Linked DNA regions of Homo sapiens: all the other regions are reported to be linked to region 1. Evidence: microRNA targets listed by miRTarBase, many of them from high-throughput screens and not tested one by one. Region 1 holds a microRNA gene; each other region holds the end of a gene's coding sequence.
The links. Region 1 holds the annotated microRNA hsa-miR-3191-5p (CUCUCUGGCCGUCUACCUUCCA, at 2,231-2,252, opposite strand). A microRNA usually pairs through its seed, bases 2 to 8, with sites in the 3' UTR of a target mRNA and lowers its output. Matches are read on the target gene's strand: a 7mer-m8 pairs with bases 2 to 8, a 7mer-A1 pairs with bases 2 to 7 and ends in A, and an 8mer does both.

Region 1 (4,000 bases):
TCATTCTGTCCTCCAGGCTGGAGTGCAGTGGCATGATCTCCTGATCTCGGCTCACTGCAACCTCCACCTCCTGGGTTCAAGAGATTCTCCTGCCTCAGTCTCCCAAGTAGCTGGGATTACTGGCGTGTGCCACCATGCTCAGCTACTTTTTGTTTCTTTTTTTTTTTTTGAGACAGATTTTCGCTGTTGTTGCCCAGGCTGGAGTGCAATGGCACGATCTCGGCTCACCGCAACCTCTGCCTCCCGGTTTCAAGCAATTATCCTGCCTCAGCCTCCCGAGTAGCTGAGATTACAGGCATGTGCCACCACGCCTGGCTAATTTTGTATTTTTAGTAGAGACGGGGTTTGTTCATGTTGGTCAGGCTTGTCTCGAACTCCCGACCTCAGGTGATCCGCCCTCCTCAGCCTCCCAAAGTGCTGGGATTACAGGCATGAGCCACCACGCCCGGCCTTAATTTTTGTATTTTTAGTAGAGACGAGGTTTCACCATGTTGGCCAGACTGGTCTCAAACTCCCAACCTCAAGTGAGCCACTTGCCTCCGCCTCCCAAAGGGCTGGGATTACAGGCGTGGGCCACTGCACCAGGCCGAAAATGGCTGTATTTGTTGTTTCTTTTTTGAGATGGTCTTGCTCTGTCCCCCAGGCTGGAGTTCAGTGACCCTTCATGGCTCAGTGCAGCCTCGACTTCCTTGGCTCAAGGGACCCTTTCACCTCAGCCTCCCAAGTAGCTGAGACTACAGGCCCGCGCCACCACACCCGGCTAATTTTTGTATTTTTTGTAGCAACGGGGATCTCATTATGTGGCCCAGGCTGGTCTGGAACTCCTGGGCTCAAGCGTCCTTCTATCTCCGCCTCCCAAAGTGCTGGGATTACAGGAGTGAGCCACCGTGCCTGGCTGAACATAGATGAATGGAAGCTCTTTTGCCCATATGGTGAATCTGAAGCCTAATATTGAGGGAAAAAGGAATTCTGGGGAGAAACAAAAACTATGTCATATACGCTAAGCTAAGAATGCTCCATGATTCTAAGCCCTGGTTCTGGCCTGGTAAATACGGAGTAAAAGCAACACCTGCAGGGGTTGAGAGAGGCCAACTCGAGAGATTTCCTTTGGATGCAAGGAGGGGGAAGGGATGGGGAGAGTAAGGAGCTTCACCACATGCGTTTCTGCGGTTTTGTTTGGTTTCTTAATAAGCAAGCAATGCGGGTGTAATGTTCAAACTGAACAGAGCTGCCTGGTGGGCGCATGATGTTTGTGATTTCCCATTCTCTGCTGTGGGCTTCGAATATTTGTTTTAAAAAATCGAGGCCGTGCCAGGGGCTGGGGGGCGGGGCCTCCCGCGGGGCGGGGCTGCGAGCCCACCCCTGCGGTCCCCGGCCCGCCCCGGCGCCCGGGAAACTGTGTGGCGCTGCGGGCCGCGCGAGAGGGACGGCAGGGGGCGGGCGCGGCGCGGCTGCTGACTCACCGGCTATAAATAGCCCGGGATATATGAGCCGCGCCGCCCAGCGCCGCCCTCAGTCCCCGCGGCCGCGGGCCACGGGCGCGCAGCTCCACTCCTCGGCGGCCTAGTCCCTGGCCCTGGCCCTGGCCCTGGCTCGGGCTCCGGCTATGCCAGCCGCGGCGCGGAGTCCTTGGGCGGCTCTGCGGGCGCGCGATTCCCCCCCACCCACTTACCCCCCACCTGCCTGTCCGCGGAGCGACCCAGCCGCGCAGGGCAGCAGCTGCCGCACATCTGGCGGGGGCCGCCTGCCGCCCCCTCCTCCGGCGGAAGTCCCACCTGCCGTCTACCCCACCCCCAGCACTCACCCGCCGCTCGTACTGTGCGTTGAGGTCGTCCGCCATCCGCCGCAGCTGGGCCCCGATCTCCCGGGCCCACTGTTCCTCCTCCCCGCGGACTCCCGGGGCCGCCTGGGTGGGACCGCCCGCCAGAGCCCCCGGGGCGCTGGGCACGGGCGACTCCAGGTGCTGCTCCGCCAGCGAGAGCGAGGGCTGAGGACCTTGGAGAGGCAGAGGGGCGCGGTCAGCACCCACCACCCCTCCAGGCCTCGAGGTGTCTCGGCCTGCTCCCCTCTTTCCCAGCCACTGCTCCCCGCCTCATTTCTAGTGATCCCATCGCTAGTGAGTCAATTTCTCAGCTTCTCCTCCACAGGCACCAGAAAGCAAGAAGTACCTGGGGACGCCGCTCTGGGGTCACCTGTCTGGCCAGCTACGTCCCCACGGCCCTTGTCAGTGTGGAAGGTAGACGGCCAGAGAGGTGACCCCGGGGGTGGTCAGGCTTAACGACCTCTATTTTCCAAAGGGGCCACATTTTGCCTTTTCCATGTGACAGGCAGGGAAACTGAGGCCCGCCCTTAGGGAGTATCCCAAGGTCACACAGGGATACAGTGACTGACCCCACCCAGATCACAAGCCTCAGGTCTCCTGCCCTCTCGTGTCCAACCACAGGGAAGCCACACCTCCGGATGTGGCAGAGGCCTAGAGACCAGAAGGCCAGAGACTGTGGCAGCTTCAGAGCGCGGGCCTGGGGGGCTGGGACGCGGGAGATGCCTTCCTGCCCCCCCCCCCCCCCCACTTCTGAGCGCCCTAGGAGGCTCCTGCCCTCCCGTCCCACCAGGTCCTGGCCTGAGGGTTCCCTAAGGCCTACAGCCAGGGCCTCAGTTTCCACATCTGTGACCTTGGCCTTGAAATCGGTGTCCCCTTCCAGGGCTTCCAGGAACTGAGTTAGGGAAGTTTTCTCTTTCCTCGCTCCCCTTGGGCTGCCGGGACAAGATGGGGGATGGGAAACCAGGACACACTTTCCCTAGAGCGCCTGCCGGCAGGGATGGGGCTCCACGGGCACCACAGGGTTAACAGCCCATCAGGCAGGGGACCTTTAACCCTTCCCTCCCCAAGACTCCCCCACCTCCCCGAGGGGACTTCCCAACACAATGGCCCCTCCCCCTCTCCTTCCTCCGCCGGGACTGCTGAGGACAGCCCCTGGCCAAAGAGATGCAAATAAAAGCAAAAGGCCTCTCGACCCCTCCCCAGAGGCCAGAGTTGACAGTCCTCCCGCTCGGCCCACTCTCCCTGCAACAGGAATCCTCCAGGGGGTCTAGAGGACCCAGACTGGGGGAGGGGAGCTGGGATGCAGCTGTTGCCCCAGGCCCGGAAGAGACAGTGGGCTGCAATTCGGGGACTGCAGTCAGATTCCAGGAGGGACTTCCCACTTGACCTCCCCCTCCACCCCCAGCCTCCGTCTTCCTGCTTCTTGCAACACAAAGACCACATTGGCCACACCCTCCCAGTGGCCCGGCTGGGCCCGCCACCTCCCCCCGTCCTCTCCCACTTCTCCAGTTCCTCCGAGTCTCCAGCCCTCTCTCTTCCCGGCTCCTATCACCCCGGGGGCGGGGCGGGCACTCACCGTCCGGGCGCGGGCCTCGGGGCCGGCTGCGGGGACCCCCAGGCCAGCGGGAACCCCCCAGGGCGGCGGTGACGGCGGGTGGGGCGGTGGGGGCGCAGAGGTAGGCAGCGGGCAGCAGGGTGGGGGCGGCGGGGGCGGCAGCCAGGCCGGGCTCGCAGAGGCCGCAGGACACTGCCGAGGGCACCAGGCGGCCGAGCGGGAAGGGGCGCGGGCCGTCGCGGGCCAGGCCCTCTACGGGCTCCGGGGAGCTGCCCTCCTGGCGTGCGCGGGCCATGGCGCTCCCTGGGGCCTGCGGGACACGGGAGGAGGAGCAGGTCAGCAGGGAAGTACCAGGGCCCACTGTACCTCCAGCCTACCCGGGGTTAGGACCCAGATGGAGAAGAGTGGAGGTGTGTGTGCATGCGGAGGGGGTGACGGCCCCACAGAGACACGCCCAGCCGGGGGATGACACCACCGGGTCCTGGCTGGCCTGGAGAGCCTCCCGTGCATACGGTGATGGGCACACAGGAGGGACAGGGGGCACAGGACGGCTCTCACAGCAAGGACAGGGCTCACACAGGACGGATGGAGGGGTCTAGCAGGTGTGTGTATGAGGGCTGTGA
Region 2 (4,213 bases), not on the chromosome of region 1:
GGGTTGGGTGGGTATCTTAGACTTTCTCATGTGTTTCTCTGACTGGAGAGAAGATAGCTCTTGTTCTTCAAATATTTAACTAAAGGATTTGCTGTGGGTGTCTGCTGTTGGAGCCGTGGGTGTTAAGAGACTTTTGATTATGCAGGTTTGAATCCTGGCTCTGTTGTTAACTAGATGGATGATATTGGCCAAGTTATTAATAGCTTCTTTGAGACTCAGTTTTCACATGTGTAAAAAGGGTTTGTTTTGAAGAGTAAAGGAGATAATCTATGTAAATAATTTACCATGGTGCCTAGGACTTAGTAAGTGCTTAGATTTTAGCTTTTAGTTTAATATAAAAATACTGATAGAGGGCTTTCAAAATGTTTACTATATGTATCTTTTTTTTCTCTTTTAGCCAAATGATTTCTCAGTATCACTAAAAGCACAAGGGAAAAACAAGCATTTTAAAGTCCAACTAAAAGAGACTGTCTACTGCATTGGGCAGCGTAAATTCAGCACCATGGAAGAACTTGTAGAACATTACAAAAAGGCACCAATTTTTACAAGTGAACAAGGAGAAAAATTATATCTTGTCAAGCATTTATCATGATACTGCTGACCAGAAGTGACTGCTGTGTAGCTGTAATTTGTCATGTAATTGAAGACTGAGAAAATGTTGGGTCCAGTCGTGCTTGATTGGAAATTGTTGTTTCTAAATCTATATGAGAATTGACAATAAGTATTTTTATTATAACTCAGCCCATACATATATACTATGTATGCAGTGCATCTGCATAGAACAGTTCCTTATCCTTGGCCTTCTGTTTTATTGTTTTTTTCTTTGCTGTTTTCCCTTTGCTTCTAATATTACAGTTTTGTATTTTGTAAACAAAAATCAAATAATGCATATCAGAATCTTTATATGGAAGAAATCCTTTATTGCCTTTCCTTTGTTTCCTTGTAAAGGCACCCTGTTCTGTTATGGTTTTTCATTATATAAAATTATTATATCTATATATGACATATGCTAAAATTTCTTGGAGAGTGTTAATCTTTTCTGTGACTAAATAGCAATAATAAGTGGAAAATTAGAAATTATTTCCAGGTATTATATTTGTCACAGGCCATTGTAAATACCAAGTATATTGTGTCTGCCATAATTTTTAAAAATACATTCATTGTCTTCAGTCATACAGCAAGACACATGAGACATAGATTAGAAAACATGTTGTACAATTTTAATTTACAACTGTTGGAAATAAAAATCACTTAATTTTTTTCCAGTGCTTCTCCCTCATCTGGTTATTCAAGAAAACAAAACAGTCTCTGAGATATTTAGCTTTTCAAACTGTAAATAGATGCTCTAGTGTTATTTATTTTTTTAATCCCACTTGTATTATTTTACCTCTAGAGCATCTTGTATTAGGACATGTTATATTTATGCCAGTGGGAAATAAGTTATGGCCAAGTTTTGCAAAAACAGGAAGCAGTGAGATACTTGTTTTTTTCTCCTCACTAAATATCAGTAATTGTCAGGAATGGTATTACCTATTTTCATTTCCTCTTTTCAGCTTTAAGTTTTGTTGATTGGGACACTAAAACTGATGTATACCTGAGGAAAAAATAGAATGTGCTCATGGTTAGGGAAAATTATATTATTTTTAATTTTTTAATTTGTTTTTTAACCAAGTAGGAATTTGGGTGTATGGATAAGAGGCCAATCTGCTTCTGTAGGCTATAGAAGAAAACCAGTTGTATTTTATGGTCATAATTTGTCCCCCTATTATTCTGGAGATTTAAATTTAAGTAAAGTAGCCATCAGTATTTTAATTGAAAAATACTAAAGCCACATAACTGAGTAGGATGTCGTATGATACTTTCAACAAATTCCCTAATGCTGCCTAAGCATATGGATGTTTTAATTCTTTGCTGTTATAAATAGATATCTAATACGCCAGAATTACTGATGGTAAAATTGAAGTTGTGTAACTTGTGAATTTTTTTTATCAATGTTTTAAATATTATTTAAATCTTAAAATCATTTAAAGACTTATGTTGCCACTGGGTGGCAGCCATGGCTTCTCCCACTAAGCAACAGAAGTGACCAAATATAATTAAGACAAATTTTCATCTCTATTACATCTGCTTTTAAAACATTTTAGTTCATATTCTATTATTTTTCTAACTCAGTACTCCTTTGTTGAGGGTAATTATTAGTAGTTAAGTTTTTAATGGAAATAAAAATCATGTATGCTTATCTTTGCTGTAAAATCAAATGAATATAAATTGAGGAAAACTTTAAATTGTTGTAGGATGACTAGTAGTAAACATCATCTTAATTTTTAACATATATTTGATGATGCTTTCCTTTTCTCTGTATGTTTCTGGGTTTTCCCCCAGTCTTCCTTATGAAAAAAATGTATGTTTGTAAAAAGAGAACAATTAATGCTTTGCATCACAGACATAAACTATTCATAGTAAACTGCACTGAGCTGATATTAATAGAGCAGACTTTTGAGAAAGTAGGAGTGTAGTAGCACTGGAAACAGAATGCAAATTTCTGTTCCATAATTAGGTTTATTGTAGCTATAGCGCTCCCAGATAACCCATGTGTGCTAGTAATATCTATTGTGTGCTCTTACTATGGTATAAAAACCTCGCTGGAAGCTACTTATTTTGTACTTAAATATTTTACCAATTTTTAAAAAGTCTTAATCCAATGCTTATACCAGTGACTGTTTTTATAATACTTGAAGTAACTTTAAGAACTGAAACAACCCTGGAAAACTCTACATAGCTAGATAGTAACAATACTTGTATAAGAAACCAAGTTTCCTTATTCCCAGCCTGGTGTCTGTATCGTGACACACTACTCTGTGTATGCTTGGTTTTAGACTAGGAGGAGAGTCCTGGGAAGGGCAATATTACAGAAGTTTTCTTCCACATGAGGAGAATGCTTAGTTTCAAATTTAAATACATGTGTCAGATGGAACCCTGCCTAACTCACTTCTACAAATAACTTCCCCAAAATCTTAGAAGGTTTTTTAGAACATGATATAAGCTTTGTGACAAAAACAAATGCCATTGTGTCCCTTATTTAGTCATAAAACCTTAGGATTCAGCTGAATATATATTCACACATGTATATTACACATATATCACTATACAGTTAACACATGCACCTTGCACTATTAGTGACAAATAATACTGCTAAACAAAATAGGCTTCATGCAATCTATTGCCATTGCTAGAAGAATAAATAGGCCTAGCAGATGGGCAACTTGGGTTGTTAGAATAAGGTCATTCTTGCAGAATATGGCACTTAAATTATCTCCAGCTGTAATGTCCTACCATATAATCCAGAGGTTGCATAGAAGCAGAGTTGTCACAGTCTCTGTAGCACGTTTGTGAGAATTCTCTAGGCAGGCCCAGCCCTTCTCTAGAAGTTTGAATTTCACTCCCACCTTGTTGCTGGGGTACCTTCTTCAGGGTACATCTAAACACAGTGGCCTTATACAGAAATGTTGTTCAACCCACACAGTGCTTTAAAAAATTAATTGCCAACATTTAAAAATCAGGGAGTTTCACATAAAATTCAGACTTCTTGTTTCCCTTTAAAAATGAGAAGCTAATAACATGAGTTGAATTCCCACAAGTCAACAATGAGCTGGAATCTAATATGGATGGTCCTCTTATCTTTACCAGTGCACATGGTGAAAAAATTCAAACAGTATAATAAAGTCTTCTTTCAAGTCAAAATATAGAGACGAATCTCTGAAACGTTTTATTTGGGAAGCAAGAATTGTAATTCAGGGCATATACACAGACAGTAGTTTTTGGTATGTCTAAAGAACAGAGAAGATGGGGAGTTTTATTATAAAGAGAAATGTTACGTATGTTTTGAAAGAAAACTCATTGGTTCTAGATAAGTTTTTGGGAGGTGGCAAGCTCTGATTGGTGTGTGACAGTGATAGGTAAAACCAGTCTTAGAGTCACAGCAGGTCATTTCAGCAGCTACTAGGTAAAACTGGTCTTAGGGTTTACAGTAGTCTGTTTAAGTAGCTGGGCTTGTGGAAAACTGAGTTCTTGGAGCAGCTGCTATGTCCTTCATGTACTTTTTCCCCTTAATGCATTGAATCTGATTTGGTTGGGTATGACAATAATTACCCAATTTGTATAATTAACTTTCACACTCCCAACCCTTATCCCCCTAGTTGAGATCTCCAGATGC
Region 3 (4,213 bases), not on the chromosome of region 1:
TGGTAACAAATAGGTAGAGGCCAGGGATGCTACTAAACAAAGCACAGCCAGCCCCCTGCAATAAAGGGTTATTATCAGGCCCCAAATGTCAATAGTGCCAAGGTTGAGAAACCCTTTTCTGTATTGACAAACAACTCAGGTCACTGTGATGCAGGTCAGGACCACCCTCTGAGAAATATGGCTACAGGGCTCTTCTTGTGAGCAGCCAGCTCAGGACTGCATAGACCACATGCTTCTTGAGGGCAGGCCAGTCTATCCATGCTGTGTCCCCAGCACTTAGCACAGCAACTCACACAAAGCAGGTGCTCAGTAAGGATCTGTGAATGAATGAGTGAATCTGCAGGTGAACATGATTGCAAACAGGTTCACATTCCGGGAGAAGCTAGAGGACCACCAATGTCTTGTGAACTTGAGAATGTGACAGTCGATTCAATCAGAGACAAGTGCAGGGTGGTTGTGTCTCTCAGGCCAGAGCAGGGAAACACCCTGGCTGGTGAGGGCTAGACTCTGGCTCCCTTGAACACCGTAGTCGCTAGGAGTAGGGGAGTGGGAATATGAGTGTGGCAAGCACTGACTCAGTGATGGGAGAAGGGCAGAGAAAACTCTTAGTATTCTCTTTGATTTATTGGATTAAATAACTGGTTTAATGGAAGAAATCAGTTTCTGAATCTCTTGCTCTGTTGTGTCCCACAGCCCTCCTGGAAGCCTGTGAATTCCTCAGGAAGTAAAACCGAAGAAGATGGCCCAGCTCCCCAAGAAAGCCTCAGCCATTCACTGCCCCCAGCTCTTCTCCCCAGGTGTGTTGGGGCCTTGGCCTCCCCTGCTGAAGGTGGGGATTGCCCATCCATCTGCTTACAATTCCCTGCTGTCGTCTTAGCAAGAAGTAAAATGAGAAATTTTGTTGATATTCTCTCCTTATAAAGTGTCACTCATCTTTTCTAGAATTTTATACTGAAATCACATGCCTGACAAAATACCTGTACAGTTGGACCTTCCCTTCCAAGTTTTTCAGGTCCAGCCCCTCCTCTTTCTTGCAGTCTTGGGTATGATGCCCAAGGGTCTGGAATTTAAGGCCAGGCCAAGCACCGGTTTTCCTAAGGGGATCTTGTTGGTTATTCACATAGCTGTCTCAGTGCACGTGCATGTATGTGCCTGGGAGTGTGTGCGTGTCCCCAAGGCAGGGCAGGAAGAGCAAGCATAGGAATTATAACTGAAATGTAGGTTCAGTTGCTCATCACTTGCAGAGTCTAATTAACAAGAGCTAGGTTTGGTATAAAGTGACTTTTATTCCAAAGCTACCTTAGGGGAAGAAGTACAGGCTTCTTTCCTTAAGGGTAACTGCTTCACCTTTGGAGCAGAAAGCAGAGGCTTTTAAATGGGGGGCGTGGCATGCAAGGCAGGAAGTGAGCAGGTAGAGGGTCTGGGTACTGGCTTTGGTGCCTTGTCTACCAGGCAGTTGAGTTGGTTACTGCTGGTGCCTTTGTGGGCAAAACTAGGTTGTAAAAGCAGCCAAAAAATTTCCAGATGGGAGAGTTTCATAGCGGGCATATTTTGGCTTGTGAATTGACTGTTATGTCTCAAGGTAGTCTCTTGGTGGGAGAGAGTTCTGCTCTGTAGCGTCTAACTAAGAGCACATAGTTAGATGAACTTGCCCTGTTGGGAGTGTCTGGTGAAGGGGAGATAAAAGATTATAATTGCATTTCTAAAGAGCTAAGTAGGAAGCAGAGAAAAGGAGAGAGAAGTGAAGACAGAATAATTTTAAATAATGAAGAGAGAAATGAAGAAGGAATAATTTTCCTGCTTTTCCATTGGTTCTTTGGACATAACAGGCAAAAGTGTCAATCAGGGTGAGACTGTTCCTTCAAGGGCAGAGATCAGACAAGTGTCCTGAAACTCTGCCTCCATTGTGGGGGCAACCATTTGGCCATGTTCCCCACTGTCAGTGAGATGAATAGCTCTGCTGCTGCCTGCAAAAGCCTCTGAAACCTGTCAGGAAAGGACATTAATTAAGGTCCCATAATGCTAGGATGAAGCTCTTTTCCTATTTGCTACTTTGAATTATGGCCTGATATGTTGTCCATCCTCACTAACATGAGAAGATTAGTCAGTGAGCAACATCTGATGGGGTAGCCACAGCAGTGATAATGCCAGCACTCTTAAACATGACATTTGAACAGTATGAACTTTCTTGTCTAAATAAGATACTAAAGTGAAATTGAGGCCCACCTATGAAATTCTCCTGTTCCAGGTTGAAAAGAAATGGAACATCGCTGTGTCTCTCTGTTCACGCTAGGTTATATTGCTGTAGCAAATGGCCTCCAAATCAAAATCTTAGTGGCTAACATGACAAAAATGTGTTTCTCTCTTGTGTCCATCTCCATCATGGGTCAGCAATGGATCTGTGGCTCATGTCTTTATTCTGAGACCCAGGCTGAACCAGCAGCCCCAATTTTGGGCATGTTGGGCTTGAGGCAGAGGGGAAAATATAAGAGACAGAGGCAGCTGCTCTGCCTATGGAGTGCTATTCTTTTATTCCTTTATTTTCTTAATAAACTGCTTTAACTTAAAAAAAAGAGACAAAAGCATCATACAATAATACTTACAGTGTCTGCTTGGCAGAGGCCATATCATCTTTATCATTTCATTGGCCAGAGAATTCACATGGCCACAACATCAGTGAAGTCGCCCAGGAGGAAGGGGCAGTGATAGAGGACTGGGGTTAGTGCAACAGTGCAAGGAAAAATCTTCAGAGCATTTCATAGTGCCCAGCCAGAAGGCCATCACAGGAATGTCCCACCCACCCACAAAGGCTTCTCTGCAGTCCTAGAGAGGTGTCCTTTGCCCAGGTCCCACCCCCTTCCCAGAGCATGGCCTGGTAGGTGTGGCTGGATCTCAGTCCCTGTGTGCCACTCACCAGGATGGTTGGGCCTCTGCCTGCACAGCTGCACAGGCCACCCCAGAAACAGAAGATTGACTAGATGCAGGATGCTTCCTGTGATATTTCACAATTTATCCTGCATTAATGATATTTTCCCATACAGAGAACCATGCAGTAGTTCCCAAGGTTGGGTTCCCTGAGGGGGAATCATTCATATTTGATTTCAGAAACCCTCCCTTCAGGCCATTGCTAACTTTTGCTGTAACACCAGTCACTCTCTGAGGTTCAGTAACAGCTTCATCTTCCTCACCCTGTGCCACAACTTTAAGACTGGTTTGGGCACATCCTCTTATCATTTTTGTGTATGTCTCCTGGGGTCTCTAAGTCCCAAATCTTTCCTTAAAAAGTTATTTCTGTAGAGCACCTGATTCTGTCATTGTTCAGGTTGCCACTATGTAACCCACATGGACCTAGGGAAACTGAACAAAGGGGGCAAACGTGGGAATAAAAGACAAGAGACAAAAGAGTATATTTGGAAGAAGCGGTCAGGGGGCACTTTGCCTCTAGTGGACAAGGGCCCTGAGCTTTACACAACCCTCCGTAGTGATTAGACAAAAGAGATAGTGAGAAGGGGGGTGTGGAAGAAGGGATCAGCTGCTCAGTCCACAGTAGGCTTGCAAGACTGCATTCTCCAGATGTCCCAGTAGATAACCTCAAGGAGCCTGGTGCCAGGAAGTGATTGCCCTCAGCAAACCTTCTGGCAGTGGGAGCAGTCGTGAGTTTGCCCACATCCTGCATTCATGATAAACAGTTTGCTGTTTTATCATATAGCCTCCAGTGGAATGATGAGTTGGTCAGTCCCACGAGCCTTAGGCTCCCTAAATATCCCCCTTTCTGTTTATGAATTAATTGAAAGAATGTAAGGCCAGGGTGGGCAGCTCTCATTTTCCGATTGGTGGTCCATCCAATTTTACAGGCTATGAACAGAAGACAGAGACAAAACAATATTATTCCAAGAACTACATGTAAGATGTTAATGTAGTGCCTTAGATAAGTCCAAGGATTGAGGCTCTCCAGGCCTTGCTGGAATTTGGTCCAGTCTTCTAAAGAAGGCTGAAACTCTTGAATTTGCCTATGTAAATCAAGAATTTTGTTTTGTAATTCACCAATATCAAAGGTGATGTTAGATGTGAAAGCTCCCTGCAAATGGGCTTTCACAACGTCCCACAGATACTCACTTTGGTTATATTCTAAGTTGGTTACACAAATATGAGTGTGATTAAAATGACAATGCAATCAAGCTTTGTGCTTTTCCCCTAACCATAGAACTGTGGA
Region 4 (4,213 bases), not on the chromosome of region 1:
GGGCCCTGGGGGTGAAGCACCTGGCCTGGGACCAACTGGCCCACGATTACTCATAGATCTGGGACATCCGAACCCTTGACTGCATCCACGTCCTGCAGACGTCTGGTGGCAGCGTCTACTCCATTGCTGTGACAAATCACCACATTGTCTGTGGCACCTACGAGAACCTCATCCACGTAAGGCCTGGGCATCTGGGTGCAAGGCCAGACTGTGGCCCCGTCTCCCCCGCCTTGCTCAGTGTCTTTGACCTGCCTGTGCCCACCCCTCCCAGGTGTGGGACATTGAGTCCAAGGAGCAGGTGCGGACCCTCACGGGCCACGTGGGCACCGTGTATGCCCTGGCGGTCATCTCGACGCCAGACCAGACCAAAGTCTTCAGTGCATCCTACGACCGGTCCCTCAGGGTGCGTGCTGGCCCAGCGGTGGCAGGAGGCTCAGAGGGCTGGCAGCTGAGCTCCGGCGGGCCCTCACGTCCCATGTGCCCCCAGGTCTGGAGTATGGACAACATGATCTGCACGCAGACCCTGCTGCGTCACCAGGGCAGTGTCACCGCGCTGGCTGTGTCCCGGGGCCGACTCTTCTCAGGGGCTGTGGATAGCACTGTGAAGGTCAGTGCCCGTGGCTCAGGCCATTCAAAGGGGCTGCACAGGATGGAGCGGGGGTGGGGACGAGGAGCTGGCAGCCCCAGCACAAAGTGGTGGAGGGCAGGTACGTGTGGCAGGTGTGGCTGGGGCAGGGCAGCCGGCCGCAGGACATCCTGGTGAAGCAGCCCTTTCTCTGCAGGTTTGGACTTGCTAACAGGATCCAGGCCAGGCTGTGGTTTCCCCTGAACCAGCCCTGGACCTTTCTGAGCCAGGCTGGCCACATGGGGTGGTCTCGGGGTTTCTGCCTGCCCCGTGGGCATAGGTGGACAGGCTCTGGCAGCCGGGCAGTGCCCTCCCCGTCCCATGCTCGGCGAGCCTCCCTCTACTCGGCACTGTCCTTGCTGCCCAGCCCCTCTCTGGGTGCCAGGTACGACGCTTGCCCCGGCCCACCCTCCATCCCCACCCTCCATCCCCACCCTAGATGGAGCGAGGGCCTTTTTACTCACCTTTTCTACCGTTTTTAGACTGTATGTAGATTTGGTTACCTCCTGGTTGAAATAAATGCTCCACAGACTGTGGCTGTGAGTGGGGACAGCTCCTCGGGACAAGGGGGCTGTGTGTGGCCTTGAGGTTGGTGTGCACAGGCACTGGCTGCTGTGAGTGGGGGGGCATGGGGCAGTTTCCTTTGGTGGACCCCAGGACTTCGGCCCACTCCGGGGCCTCCCCTCCCTGCTAGGAGGCAACTCGTCACACCCAAGCTGCTGGCCTCCAGTCCCATCTCCCCCAACACATGTGCCCCCAAAAAGTGAGCCAGGCACCTCTGTTTCCTGCTGTTTATTGACAGCCGACGGCAGCGCCTTGCCCAGACCTCCCCTGCCCACCTGCTGGAGCCCAGCCTGTGCCGCCCTCTGAGGAGAGGCCTGGGGGGACAGCTGGGCACGTCCACTCGCAGGGAAACACGGGGTGAGACAGCAGGAAGGGGCCCTGCACGCCGGGACGCCACCTCCGCCAGCCGCCTCCACCCGCCCCACACCACAATCGCTGGTTTTCGGCATTTTTTAAATTTTTTTTTTAAGAAACGTCAAAGTTGTGCCCAACACTGTGGATCAGCAAACACGATAGAGGAGACCAGTCAGTACTTCTTGGAGGGGGCAGGAGGAGAGAGGAAAAGGGAGGGCGAGAATGACCACACAACACAGCCTTGGACCATGAGCAGAAGCGTCCGTGGGAACTCCACTGGGGTGGATGGGCTGCCTGCACAGCCCCTGGAGAGGGGGCCAGGCACACCCTCAGAGGAGCTGCAAGCCCGTGGCCTGGCCTGCTACATGCCCTGCTTCCACGTGGCTGCCACGCTGACACACCCACATTCACCAAACCCACCCGCGCCCTGGGACGCAGCCACGCCAGGAGGAGGACACGGCCGCCGAGAGCAAGGCACAACCTCGAGTTCTTGGGGCGCAGAGAACTTAGGAGAGAAGCACGGAGGAGCCCCCGGCAGAGCACCCGCCCCCGGGCCCCAGCCTTCCACCTGTGCTAGCAGCCTGGGGCCTCCACTCTGGCCGGAGGAAGGACCGCAGGCAGACAGCCTGGGCCTCTAACAGCTTTTGTCCGGAGCTAGACTTCGTGTCCTTTCAGTTGGTAAATGGTTTTCTATAGAATCAATAATATTTCTTTCTTTAAATATATATTTGTTAAAGTTATACCTTTTTGTTTCTCTGGGGAAATCCGCCTCAGCTCATTCCCAATAAATTAATACTCTTGATAGCTTATATTCTGGGGGTGCGGTGGGGCAGGGGGGCCCTGACCTTGGTCCCCTGTCCCTTGTGCTGCGCCCGAGCGGCTGGCCGGGCGTCCCGATGGGCAGTTCTGTGCTGGGCCCGGGCCTGTGCGCTGCCCCATCCCTGGTCCCGGGGCGCCCTCCCCTCCCGCGCGGGCAGGAGGCCCAGCAGGTATTGCACGGGGAGCAGCAGGTGGGGAGGACCCGCGGGCGCAGGGTCTGCCTAGAGCCCTTGGAGCCCCCGGCCAGGCGGTCCCCGGTGGGCGCCCCGGCCCGGGTCCAGGGGCCGGAGTTGTGCTTCTGCAGGGCCCTGCCCGGCCGCTCGCGCCGCGCCCAGACGCGCCCATCCTGAGGTATAGGTCAGTGTGCGGGGAGGGCCCGGGCGGCGCGGGAGGGCCCGGCCAGGCGGCGTTCACTCCAGCATGGCATCCAGCTGGTCGGCCAGGTCGTCGAACATGCTGCCGATGTCGTCCAGGATGCTGCCAGTGCTCTTTTCCGCCGCCGAGTCGCTGCGGGGCGCGGGGCAAGGGGCGTGAGTGGGCGGGGCGGGTCTGGCCACGCCCACCCCGACCAGGACACGCCCACGTCCCGCATCTCCGTCGGCTTCCGCCTACCGCACGACGACCTCGGCGGAGCCCCGCTCACGGCACGCCCATCTCTGCCGAGCCCCGCCCATCTCTGCCGAGCCCCGCCCATCTCTGCCGAGCCCCGCCCATCTCTGCCGAGCCCCGCCCTCCGCCCGCCAGGCCCCGCCCCGCACCTACCGCGGGCCCTGCGCGTCCTCCTGCCGGATCTTCTCCTCCACCGCCTGCAGCGCCGCGGCCAGGCACGCGCTTGTCTCCTCCAGTTTCTGCCGGGCGCTGTCCCCTGGCGAGGCGCCTTCGGGCGGGGCGGGGGGCGCGGCGGCGGCGGCGGCGGCGGCGGCGGCGGCTCGCGGGGGCTTGGCGGGCACGTGCAGCGCGGGCGCGCCGGGGGACGGGGGCTTGGCGGGGCTGGCGCCCAGCGAGGGCGGCGTACCGGGCGGCTTGGCGAGGGCGGCGGGCGGCTGTCGCGCGGGCGAGGGTGCGGGTGAAGGGCCGGCGCTGCCCGAAGGCAGCCCCGCGACCGCCTTGACGGGCTTGGGCGCTGTGGGCGGCGGCGGCGGCTTGGGAGACACGGGCGGTGGCGTGCCGTGGGCGCGCTTCACCTCTGCGGGGAGGACCACGCTGGCACCGAGCGGGCACGAGTTCCGCCGCCGCGCCCCCTGCCCCAGCCTCCCGCGGCTTCCTCCCCAGCGGACCGGGAAAGACCCTGCTCACCTTGCCCCCAGCCCTGGATGGATGAGAGGGTCTGGGGACACGTTCCCACCCCACCTGGGCTTCCATCAAACCCAAGAAAAGGAAAACCCCTCAGACCACCGAGTAAGGAGGTGGAGCAGGGTCCTGTTGCCCCTTCACCCCACCCTGGCTGGCCTACCTGGGCTGCCAGGGCCTGGCAGCGGCACCTTCTTGGAGGTGGGTGTGGGCGAGCCCTGGAGCTTGGGCACAGGCTGCGTCAGGACGGGCTTGGGAGAGACAGGCGGCTTGGCCGGCTTCCGGGCTTCGCCCTCGGGCGGGGGCAATGGGGGTAGGTGCGCCAGGTCGGTGGGCGGGGGTTCGGCAGGCGGGGGCGGTGGAGGCAGCTCCGGAGGCCCAGCCTGCTCCGAGGCCGGTCGGCGGCGCACGGTGCCAGTGCCATTATGGTACACGGACAGTGGCGGTGGTGGCTCAGGCCCGGCCTCCCGCTCCTTGGCCTTGGGCCTGCGCTTGACCGTGTCAGACTCGGTCAGGATGAACTTGACGTTCTCCTGCTGGTTCTGCTTGGCCCGGATGCGC

Region 2: miRTarBase lists NCK1 as a target of hsa-miR-3191-5p. The part of its 3' UTR that is shown has no 7-base or 8-base seed match.
Region 3: the mRNA of LTF is a reported target of hsa-miR-3191-5p. The part of its 3' UTR that is shown has no 7-base or 8-base seed match.
Region 4: the mRNA of TRAF7 is a reported target of hsa-miR-3191-5p. Seed matches in the 3' UTR shown: 7mer-A1 at 2,042-2,048.

The regions. Positions count from the first base shown.
Region 1 is chr19:47,224,760-47,228,759 of GRCh38, forward strand. MIR3191 (microRNA 3191) reads right to left here and starts at 2,260; the gene lies at 2,185-2,260. It overlaps BBC3 (BCL2 binding component 3), which reads right to left. Exons shown (of 4, transcript NM_014417.5): 2 at 3,399-3,687; 3 at 1,805-1,995. The coding sequence starts at 3,672. MIR3190 (microRNA 3190) reads left to right here and starts at 2,183; the gene lies at 2,183-2,262. RefSeq lists enhancers at 615-1,114, 2,323-3,265 and silencers at 1,188-1,747, 1,242-1,408, 1,778-2,077, 3,298-3,737.
Region 2 is chr3:136,947,862-136,952,074 of GRCh38, forward strand. It overlaps NCK1 (NCK adaptor protein 1), which reads left to right. Exons shown (of 4, transcript NM_001291999.2): 4 at 398-3,745. The coding sequence ends at 592. All of the region lies in intron 3 of IL20RB-AS1 (IL20RB antisense RNA 1), which reads right to left. Among named protein-coding and RNA genes, the nearest start is that of IL20RB, 8.0 kb to the right of the region's middle.
Region 3 is chr3:46,432,710-46,436,922 of GRCh38, reverse strand. It overlaps LTF (lactotransferrin), which reads left to right. Exons shown (of 17, transcript NM_002343.6): 17 at 694-1,278. The coding sequence ends at 728. Among named protein-coding and RNA genes, the nearest start is that of LINC02009, 11 kb to the right of the region's middle. RefSeq lists a silencer at 3,391-3,685.
Region 4 is chr16:2,175,778-2,179,990 of GRCh38, forward strand. TRAF7 (TNF receptor associated factor 7) reads left to right here. Exons shown (of 21, transcript NM_032271.3): 18 at 57-176; 19 at 272-403; 20 at 488-607; 21 at 783-2,352. The coding sequence ends at 797. CASKIN1 (CASK interacting protein 1) reads right to left here. Exons shown (of 20, transcript NM_020764.4): 18 at 3,816-4,213; 19 at 3,125-3,548; 20 at 1,403-2,869. The coding sequence ends at 2,773. Among named protein-coding and RNA genes, the nearest start is that of CASKIN1, 19 kb to the right of the region's middle. RefSeq lists an enhancer at 2,051-2,552.